4 linked regions of the Homo sapiens genome follow. The protein of the gene in region 3 purifies or fractionates together with the protein of the main gene of each other region. This does not show direct contact. Each region holds a gene or a part of one and is shown on either strand. Other genes may lie near its edges.

Region 1 (3,876 bases), on a different chromosome or scaffold from region 3:
AGAGATGGGGTTTCACCATGTTGGCCAGGCTGGTCTTGAACTCCTGACCTCGTGATCCACCCACCTCGGCTTCCCAAAGTGCTGGGATTACAGGCATGAGCCACCACGCCCAGCTTTATTTATTTATTAAGAGACAGAGTCTTGCTCTGTTGTCCAGGCTAGAGTGCAGTGGTGTGGTCTCAGCTCACTGCAACCTCCGCCTCCCAGGTTCAAGTGATTCTCCTACCTCAGCCTCTCAAGTGGCTGGGATTACAGGCGCACGCCACCACGCCCAGCTAATTTTTGTATCTTTAGTAGAGACGTGGTTTCACCATGTTGGCCAGGCTAGTCTCAAACTCCTGACCTCAGGTGATCTGCCCGCCTTGGCCTCCCAGAGTGCTGGGATTACAGGCGTGAGCCACCGCACCCGGCCCTAATGCAGGGTTTTAACATGTCCTTCAATTAAGTTTAGTTGTTTCTGATTGTATTTTCATCCCAAGCTCCCTCAGTCAGTGGAAGTTACCCAGTCCCAAACTGACAGATTAATATCCTGATCCAAGGACTTTTCAGCTCCATATTCAGAAATCCCCAATTTATCCTTCTACCTCTATGGCTGATTCACCATACCAACTTAGGAAAGTATTGTCAACTCTTTATGGCTAGGGTCTCCACTCTGTAAAAAGGACCATTATTATACTAGCTGCATATTCAACATAGTTATTTTACCTCTTAGTAGTCCACACTTAAGGAATCACAAAGGAGTGGGCGAATGTTTCAGAAAGTATTTGGGAGAGTTTCAAAAAAACAAAAAACAAAAAAAGGGGAAAGAAAAAAGGGAGTTACAAAGCTTCCAACTCAAGTGGCTTGGAAGAGATCAGCTGATAAAAATCAAAACAGGCTTGACATGGAAAGGGAAAATACTCTAGACAATAAGTGTGAGGACTGTAAAGGCTGTTGGCTCACCTACCTCCTGAATAAGCTAAAAATATTTCCCCAAGGAGTGGCTGGGATCTGCAGCATTCCAAGGAATTAAGAATTCTGGTTTGATCCTTTTGGTTCACAGGATCCCTAGCAGCAATCCTCAAGAGCCTCAGCAGATTGGAGAGATGCCTCTTTGATTCTGTCCCAGAGCTAAAGATTGGAATAACTGTCCCTCCCCCTCTAAACCCACAGTCTGCCACAAGAACATTTTAAACCTTCCTCCATGATGGGCAGCAGAACTCCCTGACTAGTCCTCCAGATCCTTCTCAAGCACAGAATAGAGAGAGCATGATGGTGAGTGAGGATACTGTCCTTCCTGCAGGTCTTCAGTTCCACCACACTCTCCTAAGGGAAGGAAGAAGCCAGGCCTCAATGCTGTACCTCTCTCTGGAGGCAGCAGGCACAAGTGGAATGGAAGTGATGGAAAATCCTGCTTTTATGCAAATTGTAACTATAAACTCATTATAGTCAATATGAACATTGTATGGCTAAAGAATATCTCCAGCCAGGCATGGTGGCTCACGCCTGTAATCCCAACACTTTGGGAGGCCGAGGTGGGTGAATTGCCTGATCTCAGGAGTTCAAGACCAGCGTGGCCAACATGGTGAAACCCCATCTCTACTAAAATACAAAATTAGCCAGGCGTGGTGGTGCAAGTCTGTAATCCCAACTACTCGGGAGGGTGAGGCAGGAGAATCGCTTGAACCTGGGAGGCTTGCAGTGAGCTGAAATCACGCCACTGCACTCCAGCCTGGGTGACAGAGCGAGACTAAAAACAATATCCCCACAGTTGTCAGAAAAAAGCTTTTGTGAGACCAGCCTGGGCAACTAAAATACAAAAATACAAAAAATAAGCCAGGCATGGTGGTGCATGCCTGTAATCCCAGCTACTCGGGAGGCTGAGGTGGGAGATCACTTGAGCCTGGGAAGTCGAAGCTGCAGTGAGCCATGATCACACCACTGCACTCCAGCCTGGGCAATGGGAGTGAGACCCTGTCTCAAGAAAGAAAAAAAAAAAAAAGAAGTTTTTGGGTACAGAGTTGATCCCAAAGACTGTGGTCACTTTAAAGAAGGTTTCTCAACCTCTTCACTATTGGCATTTTGAGCTGGATAATTCTTTGTTATGGGGGCTGTCGTGTGCACTGCAGGATGTTTAGCAGAACACCCACTAGATGTCAGTAGCATTCTCCTTCCCCTGCCCCCGGCCACCCACCAGTTGTAATAATCACAAACGTCTCCAGATGTTTCCAAATGTCTCCTGAGGGTAAAATCACCCCAGGTTGAGAACTACTGCCCTAGAACTTCTCTAGGTTTGGTCAGCTGCCAGGATGGGGACTCCCAGCTCAGCAGGATGTTCTTTGGGCTCCCAGCCACGCCAAGAAGTGTTCAGGCAGACCTGGTTCAGGCCAGTCCCTTCCTGGCTAAGAGCTCTTGGAATGACTGGAATCTCCAAACCTCTATAACTGAGCTGAAGGTCTAGTGACTCTCTGCATCTCTGAAGCTTGAGACCACCTCAGGACAGCTTCACTTGCTTTTCCACCCAAGGTGCCCCTTGTCACTTACTCTGCACACTAGCTTAATTTGCAGGCAATTTCCAGAGTTACCCTTTGGTGACCAATCTGCTCAATCCCTTAAAGATCTTCTCATCAGGATTATTAGAACACTAGGAAGGCTGGGCATGGTGGCTCACGCCTGTAATCCCAGTACTTTGGGAGGCCGAGGCGGGTGGATAACCTGAGCTCAGGAGTTCGAGACCAGCCTGACCAACATGGCAAAACCTGGTCTCTACTGAAAATTCAAAAATTAGCTGGGGGTGGTGGCACGTGCCTGTAATCCCAGCTACTCAGGAGGCTGAGGCAGGAGAATCGCTTGAACCTGGGAGGTGGAGGTTGCAGTGAGCTGAGATCATGCCATTGCACTGCAGCCTGGGTGACAGAGTGAGACTCTGACTCAAAAAAAAAAAAAAAAAAAAAAAAGAACACCAGGAGATGTGATATAAAGGAAGATATCACATTATCTGGAAAAGCCTAAAAGCTTGATGTTTAGCAGGGGACTTCCTATCCCTAGTGTTACAGAATAACCTCTCTCCTTATCCCTCCCACTCTGGTAGGATTCAGTACAGCATTCATTCAATATGGGAGGCCTAAAATCAACCCACCCATCACTCTTCACTTATCTCTCCAGACTGAAGAAAAATTTATAGAAACTGAGCTCACTCACAGAGAGTACAAGATCCCGCTTGCGCCTGGAGTTCTTCTGCCCACTTCCTCTGGTCCTGCATGGGGAAACGGTCAGCCCTAGAGAGTGTCTCAGCTCCCCAGTGCTCCCAGGGCCTGACTCTTCCAAGGCACTGTCCAGCGCAGCAGCGGCATTGAGCATGTCCTCAGGGCGGGGTGGTGGCAGCTTGGTTCCATTTTCTGGTCCTGTCTCTGGGGTTGCCCGCTGGATTGCCAGTTGTGTGGCTGGTGAGAGTTGCTTGGCATAAGCAGGGACCAGAACTCGCTGTACTGCACCCTCAGAGGCCACGTAATCATCCACCAGCTAAGAACATAAAAAATAATAGCCTATTAGCCAGCCAGGCTTAGGGGAACCTGGTTAACCATCATTCTTTGGCTAAGAATAGTGAACAGAAAGTGGAAAGAAGGGGAACTCTAGCACAGTCTTTAATGGTCAATGGCTTGTTTCTCTGGGACTCCTATGAGTGTTGGGCAAATATTTCTTGTGTGTACAGGGCCTCTCATGTTGGGTTGTTACCATAGGGCTGCTCACAAGGAGAAAGCATGTTTCTGACACTGTTGGTGAATAGTCATTTATGGATAGCTCTTGGATATAAGAAATGGAGCTAGATAAGTGTTTTGTCTGAAAGGACTGGGTGAAGAAGTGATGACAAGAAAGAAACCAAGCAAGAGAAGGAGT
Region 2 (3,876 bases), on a different chromosome or scaffold from region 3:
AAACGATTCTTCTGCCTCAGCGTCTCGAGTAGTTGTGATTACAGATGCGCACCACCATGCCTGGCTAATTTTTGTATTTTTAGTAGAGACAGTGTTTCACCATGTTGGCCAGGCAGTCTCAAACTCCTGACCTCAAGTGATCCACCCGTCTCGGCCTCCCAAAGTGTTGAGATTACAGGTGTGAGCCACCGGCGCCCAGGTACTCTCATCTTTTGAAAGTTGCTATTTATGGTGGTTTCTGGTTTCCTTCAAACTTGTGTTGTATTTCTGTTGAGGTAATTTAGCATTTATACTATGAAAATCATTGAGAACTTTTAGAAGAAGCAGTTGTTTTGGGAACCAGACAAGCTTTTGTGCAGTTTTTTTTTTCAATGGTGGAAAATAATTTATTTCTCTACCTTGAGTGTAAGGCAAGGGAAAAAAAACTCTTACCAATTGCGTTTTGGAAAACGCAGTTGGTAATATCTCTAGATAATATCTCTGGAGACGTACATAACTTTAATTTTCCTCGAAATTTGCAATATGACAAAATTGAAAAGGGAAATAATACCTCTCACCATTAAATACAAGAATATAATAATCTGAACAATTGAAATTATACTTAAATATGTTATTGACTCTAAAATAATAGAAATGCCTTAATTCCAGACAGTCTTTAAGAAAGCATAATGTGGCTAGGCGTGGTGGCTCATGCCTGTAATCCCAGCACTTTGGGAGGCCAAGATGGGCAGGTTGCTTGAGCCCAGGAGTTTGAGACCAGCCTGGGCAACATGGTGAAACCCTGTCTCTACAAAAAAATACAGAAAGTAGCCAGGTATGGTGGCGTGCATCTTTAGTCCCAGCTACTCAGGAGGCTGAAGAGGGGAGATGGCTTGAGCCCATGAGGCAGAGGTTGCAATGAGCTGAGATCACACTACTGCAAGCCAGCCTGAACAACAGAACGAAATCCTGTCTCAAAACAACAACAACAAAAAACAGAAAGAAAAGAAAGTATGTTTTACATATTTCCATTTTCTCCTTACTCTTCTGAAAAACAAAAATGAAAAGTTTTCATTTTTTTTAACATTTCCTTTAAATGTAAAATTTTATATAACTGTTCTTGGCTTTGGTAGTCTGTTGTCAGAATCAAGTACAGAGATTGTACTGTCAGACGACCTAAAACTGTTTTAAATCTTAAGTGTCCTAAAGAGAGGGCACATATTAGCTTGGAAGCAACTGGTGAAACTTGATATTCAGAGACAAGGCCGTAGAGGTTAAATGAAGTTATATAGTAAAAAACAGCCTTTACGAGTTAATGAAATGTTACAACCAACGTATGCTGAAGTGAAGCAGTATAAAAGAAGGAAAGAACTGGAAGGTCATCCTTTTGTCAGTGTTGTTACCTTTGTCTCTGTTCTTCAGATTGTTTGAGAAAATGAAGTGATTTCCACCAAAGACTTCATACCCAGCTTTCCCCCCTTTTTGTGCCCTTTGGCATTCTCTGCTTCTCTATCCCCCTCATGTCAGCAGAGATGAATTAGGAAATAGGTAGGAGGGAGAGAGAGCAAAAACAGAATTTTTCCATTGTTTTCTAGCTGTTTTGGATGAATTTGAGCAGTAGGCCCTTGGACTTCACAAAGTGCTAGTATTGTTTTGAACATCCCAGCAACCATTGCATTATATTAGTATTTCAAAGTGAAAATAAGAAAGACTACAAGTGTGGGAGGATGGGGGTAAAATCCAACTTAGATGGACCTGCAGAAAAGTTGAAAGATTGATTTTCAAGTATTTTTATTTGTATATATAAGAGAAAGAATGAGCTAAAGACTCTAAAAGAGTAGCTGGTGCATATTAAAAATTATAGATTAGCAAGCCACAAATTTCTGTTCCGAAAAATGTTTTAAAGTAATGTGGCTGAAGTATTAGATTATTAGGAATATTTTGAGTGTTCTAACAAGAGTGCCAAAATTAATTTGGAGAGTAACGACTGTTTCTACTCTTTGGACTCTTGCCAACATTTGTGGGTAAGGTTTAAGGAGAAGGTGCCTATCTTTCCCACCTCACTCAGTAGTAGTTTTCTCATCCTTGTAAAATACTTAGGGAGATTCTGTGTTGTATTGCTTGAACCTCACAGGTTTAAAAGACAGGAAGGTGAATTTTTGCACTCAAAGAAGTTATTTACTAATTTTAGAATAGAGACTGAGGGAATACAATAAGCAGAGATAGAGTGATATGAATGAATAAGGAGTGTATGTGAGAGAGAGTGAGCACAGGTATAGCAAGAGATTATTGTCATCTCCCTATTTTATATAATCAAATAGTTGAAATTCTAAAAATTCAGTTTATTTGGCCAAAGATTAATTTAGTCAGTCACAGGTATTTGTTATGAATCTGTTATGACCTAATATTGTGCTAGGTATCAGGAATTCATTCAGTAGTGAACCAAAGTGCCTACCTTTATGGAGCTTACATTGAGTGGTGGATATCAATAAATAGTAAGCAAATACAAGCTGGGTATGGTGGTGCATGTCGTAGTTCTGGGTACTGGGGAGGCTGAGTTGGGAGGATTGCTTGAGCCCAGGAGTTTGAGGCTAGCTTGGGCAACATACTGAGACCCCTGTCTCTTAAAAAAAAAAAAAAAAAAAGTAAAAGCAAGCAAAACACAATCAATATAATTTCAGTTAGTGATAAATGCCTTTAAAAAACACCAAGATAAACTGTGTGTCGGTTAAGATGCAATCATAAGTCAGAAGCCACAGGTATTTTCAAGAGGGTAAGTTTAATAGAGTTACTGACTATATCAGGGAAATTAAAGAAAATTAAAAGAATACAAGAATAGTTTTAAGAAGCAGCCACTACTGATAGGGCTGAGATAGAGTGCCCAAGTAAGAACCTTTTTTGCCAAGGCTAAGATTCTTACCTTATTGGAAGGAATATGGCCATGACTCAGTAGCAGAGCAGTCACTGGTGTTGCTCTGGTGGAACTTACTGGAAATGCATCCTTCAAAACTTGGTGGGAAATATGCCCTCTAGGTCACGGGTTGGCAAACTGTAGTCCTTTTGCCAGCTGTTTTATAAAAAAAAGTTTAAATAGAACACAGCTATGCCCAATCTATTTACATATTGTCTGTATCTGCTTTCTCACTACAAAGGTAGAGTTATGATGTTATAATCTGCAAGCCTAATTTACTATTTGTCCCTTTAAGAAAAAGTTTATAAATCCCTGTTCTGGAGTACTCTAAAAAACTGTTTATGGGGAGATATCTTGTTAGAGATACTCTGCTTTGAAACCTCCCAAGGGAGAGGAAGCACCAGTGAAAGCTGATGGTCTTTGAGTGTTGCTGACCACCATTAATATCAAGAGCTAGGCACTGGAGAAGCTGCCTCCACTGCAGAAGCTTGCCAAGGATACATGAGTCAGGAACAAGAGCTCCTTTTTCTTGTAATATCTCTCTTTTATCCCCTGCTGACAGAACTTAACATCATGGCACCTAGAAAAAGAAAGATATTTATTTAAGGAACCAAGCTCTATGCTTGTAGAGCAGACAATGAAGAATGAATTTGGAGCAATAAATTGATAACTGGCCCATAAACAGACTAGGATTTGTGAATATTTTAGGTAAGGTGATGAGGAAAGCCTCTCCAAGGAGACGATGTTTGAGGAGAGATCTAAATGATTAGAAAAGATGGGCCAAAGGGGAATGACAAAAGGTAAGGCCTTGAATGTGGCTGTTCAAGGAAGCAGGAAGGCCCATGTGATTAGAATATCTTTAGGGAATTAGGAGAGTGAGAGTAGGGAGGTAGGCAGGAGCAGATGGTATAGGGCCCTAGATCTATAGTAAGAAGATTGGAAATGAGGGGACCAGTTAGAAGACTATCACAGTTTTCCTGTATGGT
Region 3 (5,391 bases):
TGGCCACTGACTTCATTTGCCTAAGGAAATGCTCCCACTTGGAGTGCATGATACCCTCCTACGGGGAATAGGGAAGCTGCAGAGAAGAAGGTGGAGACAGGAGAGAGAAGATCAGAATGACAGAGGAAGGAAGCACCAGGGGCAGGAAGGGTAGAAGGGGGTGTCTGAGAGGAGGGAAAACAATGCTAGGAAGGACAGGAAAGAGTTCGAGAGGAGGAAGAGAAGAAGAGAGGAAATAAGGGTGAAAAGCTGCAGCCGAAAAGAAGTAGGGGATACACACACCCTGGTTTGCTGAGACTGTAGAGTGCTGACCTTAGAAAACAGCTCGCCCAGGGGGAGCCTCTGGGGAGGTGGGACCACCCCAAGGTACAACTTGTTCCAGCCACCCACCCCACCATTCTCCAATTGTGGATTGTGGTGGTAGGTGCAGGGATCTTATACAATCATTGAAAGTGCCAAGGACACTGCTCAGAGGCCACCAGCACCAGGGCTGGACACTCACTCAGCCTCAGCAGGCTGCTCCCCGTGGCGTCAGGCTGGCAGATGGTGGGAGGAGATTTGGCAGCCTCTCCATTGGGCGTGGCTCCTGAAAGCTTCCCAGGTAAAGTGGGATATTTGTGCTCCGCCAAGAAAGGGCTGTCCTATTGGAAGGTGAGAGAAAGAGAGAGATACCGACTTAACTGTCAGCCTCAGTTAGGAAATCCTTGGATACAGAACAACTCCCTGTTTTGCAAGAGCCATTTTTCACATATGGTGACTTGAACACCCCTCAAAGATTATTTAGCTAGTCCGAGAAAGGGGACCAGAGTTCCAAGGAAGGAAGAAACTTTCCCAAGGCCACACAGTAAGACAGGGACAGAGTCAAGTGCAAATCTGGGGCTGACTGAAACTGACTCTAACAGGAAGTGAAGCTGTCTTGCAAAGCGGCCTTTGCTGTCTGGCCTAGTGCTCAGAGACTCAATGAATTAACAGCCGTGAATTACTCTGTAAGCTCTTTGGATATGAAAATTGGCATTCTAATAAAAGCTGCCTAGTGTTTTATCATACATACATACATATATATGTAAAATAACAATCCTGCAAGAGAGGAAACTGAGCTCAGTCTGGTCTGGGCTCCTCTGTTTCCCCCAGATTTGCTTTCCTGTGGTGAGGAGAGAGGTGCTTCTGCTAATTGGAACCCTTACTCAGACCAGAAAAGGGCAGATCTCTGTGAGGGCCTGACCAACTGCATAAATGATATGGATCTTGCCTGAGAGCGGCTATGGTACAGAAGGGAAATTATAGTTTAAATGTGGAGCAAAAGAAGAAAAAATCCCTATATTGTGATCATGGCTTCTTAAAAAACATCATGTTAAGGCAAGCATGAAGATACACACACACCCTTGGGGGAGCTGACAACAAGAAATGGGCCAGAGGACTACATGCCAACAAAGCTCCTTTGGGAACTTAGGATCATAGTCTGCACGAGGTAGAGCCTCAGTGCAGCCAGCTCCATGCTTGGACCCTGGCCATGGAAAGGTCCCAAAGAAACAAGTTGATTAAATGAGGAAGAAGATAGCACTTATTTGGTAAAGAGGCATACAATGGCCTCTCTTAATCTGCAAACCTGAGAGAAACACAGTGGAATGTGCTGTGAAAGTGAGAATAAAAGAAAAGAGAAATTGAAGCAATGTCACTAAAGGAATCAACTGTGGATCACCTGATTAGATCCTGAAGAAAGTAATATAAAAAACAAAACAGATTTCAAACTGGCAAGTCACAACAGTAATGGAAGGCTGCTGTGACTGAGACATCTTATGAAGTTCCATTTAGCTAAAGGCCAAATATCCAATATATTTCCAATTCAATTTGCTTATAAACATATGTCCTAGAAATTGTTTGAGATTCAGTTCATTCATTGAACATTGACTATTAACTCCCCATAAATAGTTCAGAAAGGAGAGATACAGTGAGAGGAAACTGAATTCTGAAAGAACTGGCTGGTGGAGTAGAAGTAACTAGAACCTTCAGAGAGGAAGGCTATGAGATTTTCAAGTTTGTGATGACCCATGAGGTGAAGATTAGACATGATCAGACATACGGTCAAGACCCACAGTTTCCAAGTGGTAGTTCATGTGCCGGCTGCTCTTCATAATTACCTGGAGCACTTGTAAAACAACATGAATTCCCAGTGCCCAGTCCCTGATTCAGTCCCTCTGGAAGCACACCCCAGATGTCTATATTTTTAACAAGGATCTCAGATTATCTCAGATTATACTAATGCAGTCAGACCCAGGAACCACTGACTGTGAGAAGGTAGTGTTCAAAGATGTTAGAGACCTGAAGGGCATGACTCCAAGCTCCCTATTATATACGACATATGGAGGGGGGAAGAGCTCTCAAAAACGTGTTTCTGGTTGCATCATCACGCATGCTCCCTCAAGGCAGGGCAGAGACAGCCAAGGAAGCAAGTGGGCCACCCGGGGAGCTCCCTGAGGAGCTGAGATGCAAGGAGAACACATACCTAACCCAAGGATGGGGTTTAAAAGGCAGCCCCGACCTGTAAGAAAGACAGCAAAAAGGAATCAAGGACAATGGAAAGGGCTCTCTGAGCTCTGCTCAGGCCAAGAATAAGGGCTGGGAAGAAATGACTCACTGATGTGGAAGGCAGTGCAATGTCAAGACGTGACGCAGAGGAAACAAGGATGCTCAACTCCAGTTCTGTTTCTCCTGTCTCCAAAAAGAACAATCCTCCTGGCTGTAGGGGAACAGAAGCCCCAGCCAAGGGAGTAGTGTAGAACTGATTATCCAGCTGCTTTAAATTACAACAGAGAAGCAGCATGCCAGAGTGGAAAGGGCCTAGGCTTTGAGTCAGACCAACTCAGACAGAGCTGTTTCTCTTCCACCTCTCAGGACCTCTGGTCATTTCTAAATGGAGAATAACAATTCCTACCTCAGGTTTGCCAGGAAATAACATATCCACAGGGCCTAGCACACAGCGGACAGTGGATAAGGAGAAGCACAGGAAATATCACATACCCAGGGCCTAAAGAAATAGCAATCTAGAAGAGGAGTCCTTAGACCACGGCAGGCACTGGTCAGACTACATCTAGAATATCACACTCCAAGTCTGGTCCAGGGCAGAACTTGAAGAATACATTGAGAAACTAGCGCTGAGCCTAAGAAGACTAAGTAGCAGCTTAAAAGGCTTGTGATCCATGCACATGAGAAGGTGATGTTCAGCCCAGAGAACAGAGCACTCAGAGAGGGCATGAGGGACTTAAATTCCAGAGCTGTCAGGAGTAGGGGAGATTGACTTTTTCCATGGGCTAGATGTGGAGGGAGAGGATCAGCAGATGCACATTTTAGAGAAGCTCACACAGCTGCAAAAGAATACAAAGGATGTCTTCCAATGAAATGAGCTCTCAGTCACAGAAAGCAAGAGCCAGTTTAAGCAAGGGCCAGACACTACAGTTAGGGATGCTGCAGAAAGATGACTGTGGAGCGGTTCTGCACCTGTGTAGCTATTCTGGGGAGGACGGTGGTGTATGTGGGTGAGAGGGGAGGGTGGTCATGTTGAATAACTGAGGTTGTATAAGATTGTGATTATGGCCAAAACCATGTAAGAATTAATCTTTTAATCTGGAGCATTTTTTTCTTTATAAATAGTTCTACGTTACTTATATTTCTTGGTAATCAAATTGGCGTCTTAAACCTTGAGCCTGTGAGCTGGGTGTGTTTCCAAAGGAGCAGGTGGTCACTTACAGGTGTGCTTTAGAAACACCTGCGAATGACCTCTGTGACGCTGAGGTGGGAGGGGGGACTGCTGAGCGATTTAACAGCTGACGCCATAGGAAGCCTTTCAGTTCACAAAGGGACCACACCAACCCCAGGCTCAAGGGACTGTGTTGCAGAGCACCTGGGCAGGGGAGCAGGCAGAAGACTTTTGCTATACAGTTCAGATGGCCCAAGGAATGGCTGCCCACTTGAAGAACCAACTGCTACAAATATGGAAGAGTAGAGAAGCCCCTTATATAGATGCAGACGTGCAGAAAAGATCTTTCTCTTACGCAGATGTGGAGGAGCAGAGATGCCCCATTTTACCGTGAAAATATAAAATGACCCTCTCAGGCAGAAGTCAGCAAGCAATGAGAAGCTCCATGTTTCATATGGACATGGAGGCAGGGGACAGAGAAGGGAAATGCCATCAGCCTCACAATACATTTTCCATATAATGTTATAAATGGTGGTTGGGTGTGGCTGAAATCATGCTAATTATATGAATCTTCATTTCTTTATGGGCTCAACATTTTGTGCACTGGCCTAAAAACTTAATCCTCTTCCACAACAGGCTTCCCTGGAGAAGATCAGTCCTAATGGAATTTTTATAACATAACTTGTTCATCAAAGCGGGACTGAGTGTACACTTGTGTTTTTTTAACCATGACATATCAGCACAGAAAGGATGAGAGCTGTCACGTTCTTCAGTGTGCTGAGATCGTAGCAATCCCCTTCCCAGTGATTAAATCTAGATTACTTTGTTAAAGATTAATTTCTCTGAGCCTATAAAATGGAGGTGATAATAATAAATCCTGTCCCACAGATAATGATAGCAAAAGCATATTAAATAGCTGAGTGCACATAAAAATAAAATGGGAGAGAAAAGTTGCGTCTTTCCTCTTGCCCTCTTACTCCTTACAGTTGGCACATTTTAAGGTTATGAAAACTATGACTTGCTAAATTAAAATACTAGCAAACAGTGTAACCACAAATAGACGACGGGGCACGAAGTCAATGTACCTTGGGTTCTAACACCGGGAAGGGCTGGTTCCCATCCATACACTATGGAGTAACATGAGGATTTCGTTTATGTGGAGAAAAAGAGACTTGTGTTATTCACAAACAGCAACAACTCAGGACTACCTGTTTGCTTAAATCTGAAAGGCGCATCCCCTCCCTCCACATCTTCATGTCAAGTAATCACCATCCAGGGCAGGAAAGATCCCTGTCCAACTCCATGGACAGATGTCCTGGGCAGCTGCCAGCAACATGACCATGGCAACCGAGAGACACGTGACCATGGGAGCAGAGCCACTGAATGATCCCAGGGCTCCTGCAGACTTCAGCCTTTATGGTTCTCCACTGTATCAACAAGGAGGCTGATGAACATTATTGGAGACCAAGGGATGGTATGCAGCACAGGCTCACTGAAGGGTCTCTATCAGGGCAGGCTCCCTTGGTCTCTAATGACCAAGCTCAAGAGCCTGCTACTGTCCCCTGCAGCATGAGGTCCACCCACATGATCAAGGGCTACTCCTATATAAGGAGCCACAAGACCCTCCTCCATCTTTCCAGACTCTTACAACAGCTCACTCTCCAACATCCTGACGATCCCACATCTTTCCTTGGGAT
Region 4 (3,130 bases), on a different chromosome or scaffold from region 3:
TCTCTTTAGGCCAGCAGTTCTCAAAGAGGGGCAAGACGCTTTCGGGGGTCCACAAAATTGTTTTCATAATAATCCCAAAATATCATGTGCCTTTTCCGCGTCATCTCATGGGCGCAGTGGGGCTTTCAGAGGCACCATGGCATGTGCTCTTGCAGGTTAAGCACAGCAGGTAGGAGGCTCCCACTGTCTTCCATTCAGCCAGACATTACAGGCATTTGCAAAAATGTCTTCGTCAATGCCTCTCCTCACAAGCGTTTTGTTTTGGAAAATATAGTTTTTTTTATTTAAAATGTTGTTTAACAGTGTTTTTATTTTCCAAATAATTATTTTAAAATTCTGTTTAAATGTATAATATGGTAAATATTGATAGAGAAAACCTATATAAGCAAAAGCTGTTTGAGGCCCTCAATGAGTTCTTATAGTGCAAGGGGACCCTGAGACAAAATGTGTGAGAGCCTCGGCCTGCGAGCTCTGGAGTGTGAGAGCCTCGGCCTGCGAGCTCTGGAGTGTGAGAGCCTCGGCCTGTGAGCTGGAGCGCGGACTGCTGGATCCATGTGTGGATCCCAATGTGTTGCAGATCCATCAGAGTAACTAACTCAACAAACGTGTACTGAGTGCTTATCACGTGCCGTGGATCCCAAGGCGTTGCAGATCCACTGGAGTAACTAATTCAACAGAAGTGTACTGAGTACCTATCACGTGCCAGGCATTGTCATAGGTGCTAGTGCTACGGCCATGAACAAAACAGACAAAATCCACCTGCCTGCCTTGTGTTCTTGTCTAGCAGACACAGTGCTGTGGAGACAGATCGACTATGTATGTCAAAATTCCAATAAGATAAAACACACAAAAACCCAGAAACAGCTGTAGCAAATATGACACACACCAGGTTAATATCTTTAATATATACCGAGCTCATACAAATTTATCTGACCCCAGAAGATAGAGCAAAGGACACTGACAATCCACAAAGGAGGAAATACAATCGCTCCACATGAAAGATGTTCAACCGTGCTAGAAGTCAGTGAAATGCCAACTGAAACACGATGCTATTTTTTCATTATCAAATTAGCAAATATTTAGCCAGATGATAATTCCCAATACGGGCAAGATGGACATGTTTATCCTTGCTGGTGGCAGTGTAAGGGGATACAAATATTTCCGGAAACCATTTTGTCAATATGTAGTAAAAGCCTCAAAGGTTTTCATATTCTTTAGTTGAAGAATCCCACCTCCTGGAGTCTACCCTAATAACTTGACATTGGGAAACAGCCTGTGCACAAAGATATTCATCAATTTATAACTGAAAAGTTAGTAACAGCATTAGTGATTGGCAACTGGCACAATGGTCCATCTAGTCAATGGGAGAGTACACAGCCACTCCAAAATAAAATATTTAGTAATCATAAGGGGAGATGCCCACGATATGCTAAGTGAAAACAGCTGCACAAAACTGTATCATTACAGAAGACAGCAACAAAACTATGTTAAAACAAAAAGCAAAGAAACCATAGTTGGGGGGGAAAGCCTGAGAGACACCAAAATGTGATGTTTTATTTCCTTCTTTCCTCTACTTGCAAAAATTTATCTAACATGTGGTTTACATGGGTAATGAGAAGACCTAGTAGGTTTGGTGCTTGTGTATGCAAAGGCATGAGGCACACGGAAGTGAGGAGCTGGGTTTCCTCCCATCTCTACCGCATCTGCGCTGTGCCAACTGCCACCCCACCCAAACTCAGGTCCCCAAGAGACAGAGACACAGGGGCTGTCTGTTCCACGTGGAAGGCCCTACACCCCAACCTTCTCCCCTACTCTGGGGAGCTTCTCCTGTTGGCCCAACAGTCTGCTCTTGCTTCCCTTACCCAGGAGACCCACCTTGTGCCTACCTCTCTAAGTCCCTAAACCAGTGCTTTCCAAGCAGAGGTGCCATGAGCCTTACAACTGTGGTTGCAGATGGAGGCGCCTCCATTAGGATCTCTTCCCTCTTCCACCCAGAGCTCTGCCCCCAGTCAGTGGCTGCAGCATGGGCCCTTTTGTCCAATCCCAGGGCTTGTTCCCTAAGTCAACCTCAGCACATGCCCAGCTCAGCCATGTCCCTTCACTCCCCTACAGGCTGGAACTGCCAGGGTGGTGCCCACCCAAGGCGGCTGTCTGCCATGACAACAGGAGCGTGTGCGTCAGGCTGGTCCTGCCGCACTTTCTGGGTTTTGTTTTCCACTCCTCCTCATTGCTCATCACATACTTACCTGGGGACAATGAAATAGGTCTTTGCTATTCCCTAGAAGTCACCAAAATGCTTTAGGACATTAAGTTAGTCCCAGGGTCACACTATACTAGGCCAGGGAGTCACCCCTTCACTAACTCCCATCTCCAGTGATACCCTGGTATGCACTGAAGCCTACTTACCAAAGGGGTACCATGTGGACCAGACAGCAGTCACAATACAGTCCAAAGAATGTCAAAACCATGGAAAACAGAACTTTCCTTCACATGCACTGTTGAACACTACTGCCTGTCCCTTTTATCAATCAATACCCGTTCTCCTAAAATTTAGAGAAATTATAACCCCAAAATATGTACAAAGCATCTCCCTTCCCCCACTTTCTTAGCCTGATCCCCTATCACTGAGGTCTCCCTCTGGGGCTGCGCCTCATCCTCCTTAGCTGGAGACTAACGTATCTTCCACTAGAGCCACCATGGGGTCCTCACCTCTCCAATGTGGGCTTCTTCCAAGTCCAAGGTGGAGGGCAAGCCCCGACCCTCTCTCATCTGCTCCGTGTTCCAAAGTGCAGGGAGCTATCAAGAAGGTCCTAAGTGCATACCAGCACTCGTCCCAAGCCCACACACATAAGCACCAAGAGAAAAAACACAAATCACCATGCCAAACAAAGGTGGAGCAGCTGCTTGGATTGGGTGCCCATAGGCAGAGGGCCCGGCTGCAGTTGTGGACAGGGAGTGTGTGGACAGGGAGTGTGTGGACAGGGAGTGTGTGGACAGGGAGCGTGGCCGGCCTTTCCTAGGCAGCTGTAGGATGTGAAGCAGCACAGGCCTGACACAGACATGGTAGGGCTTTCAAAAAGCCACTCGAGTAGAGTGAGCGCTGGCGACACAGCAGAGTTCCCACCCTGCT

The links. The genes of interacting proteins can lie anywhere in the genome.
Region 1: the proteins of PPFIBP2 (region 3) and C14orf93 purify together in Homo sapiens (affinity purification with mass spectrometry; one large-scale study listed by BioGRID and IntAct). This does not show direct contact.
Region 2: the proteins of PPFIBP2 (region 3) and HSF2 purify together in Homo sapiens (affinity purification with mass spectrometry; one large-scale study listed by BioGRID and IntAct). This does not show direct contact.
Region 4: the proteins of PPFIBP2 (region 3) and RTL6 purify together in Homo sapiens (affinity purification with mass spectrometry; one large-scale study listed by BioGRID and IntAct). This does not show direct contact.

Annotation. Positions count from the first base shown.
Region 1 is NC_000014.9:22,992,768-22,996,643, forward strand, and holds part of C14orf93 (uncharacterized protein C14orf93 isoform a precursor), read right to left. Parts: intron 3,502-3,876; coding exon 3,181-3,501; intron 1-3,180.
Region 2 is NC_000006.12:122,402,652-122,406,527, forward strand, and holds part of HSF2 (heat shock factor protein 2), read left to right. Parts: intron 1-3,876. UniProt on the Homo sapiens protein: DNA-binding protein that specifically binds heat shock promoter elements (HSE) and activates transcription. In higher eukaryotes, HSF is unable to bind to the HSE unless the cells are heat shocked.
Region 3 is NC_000011.10:7,634,982-7,640,372, reverse strand, and holds part of PPFIBP2 (liprin-beta-2), read right to left. Parts: intron 4,822-5,391; coding exon 4,780-4,821; intron 642-4,779; coding exon 503-641; intron 1-502. UniProt on the Homo sapiens protein: May regulate the disassembly of focal adhesions. Did not bind receptor-like tyrosine phosphatases type 2A.
Region 4 is NC_000022.11:44,491,707-44,494,836, forward strand, and holds the end of RTL6 (retrotransposon Gag-like protein 6), read right to left. Parts: 3' UTR 877-3,130; downstream 1-876.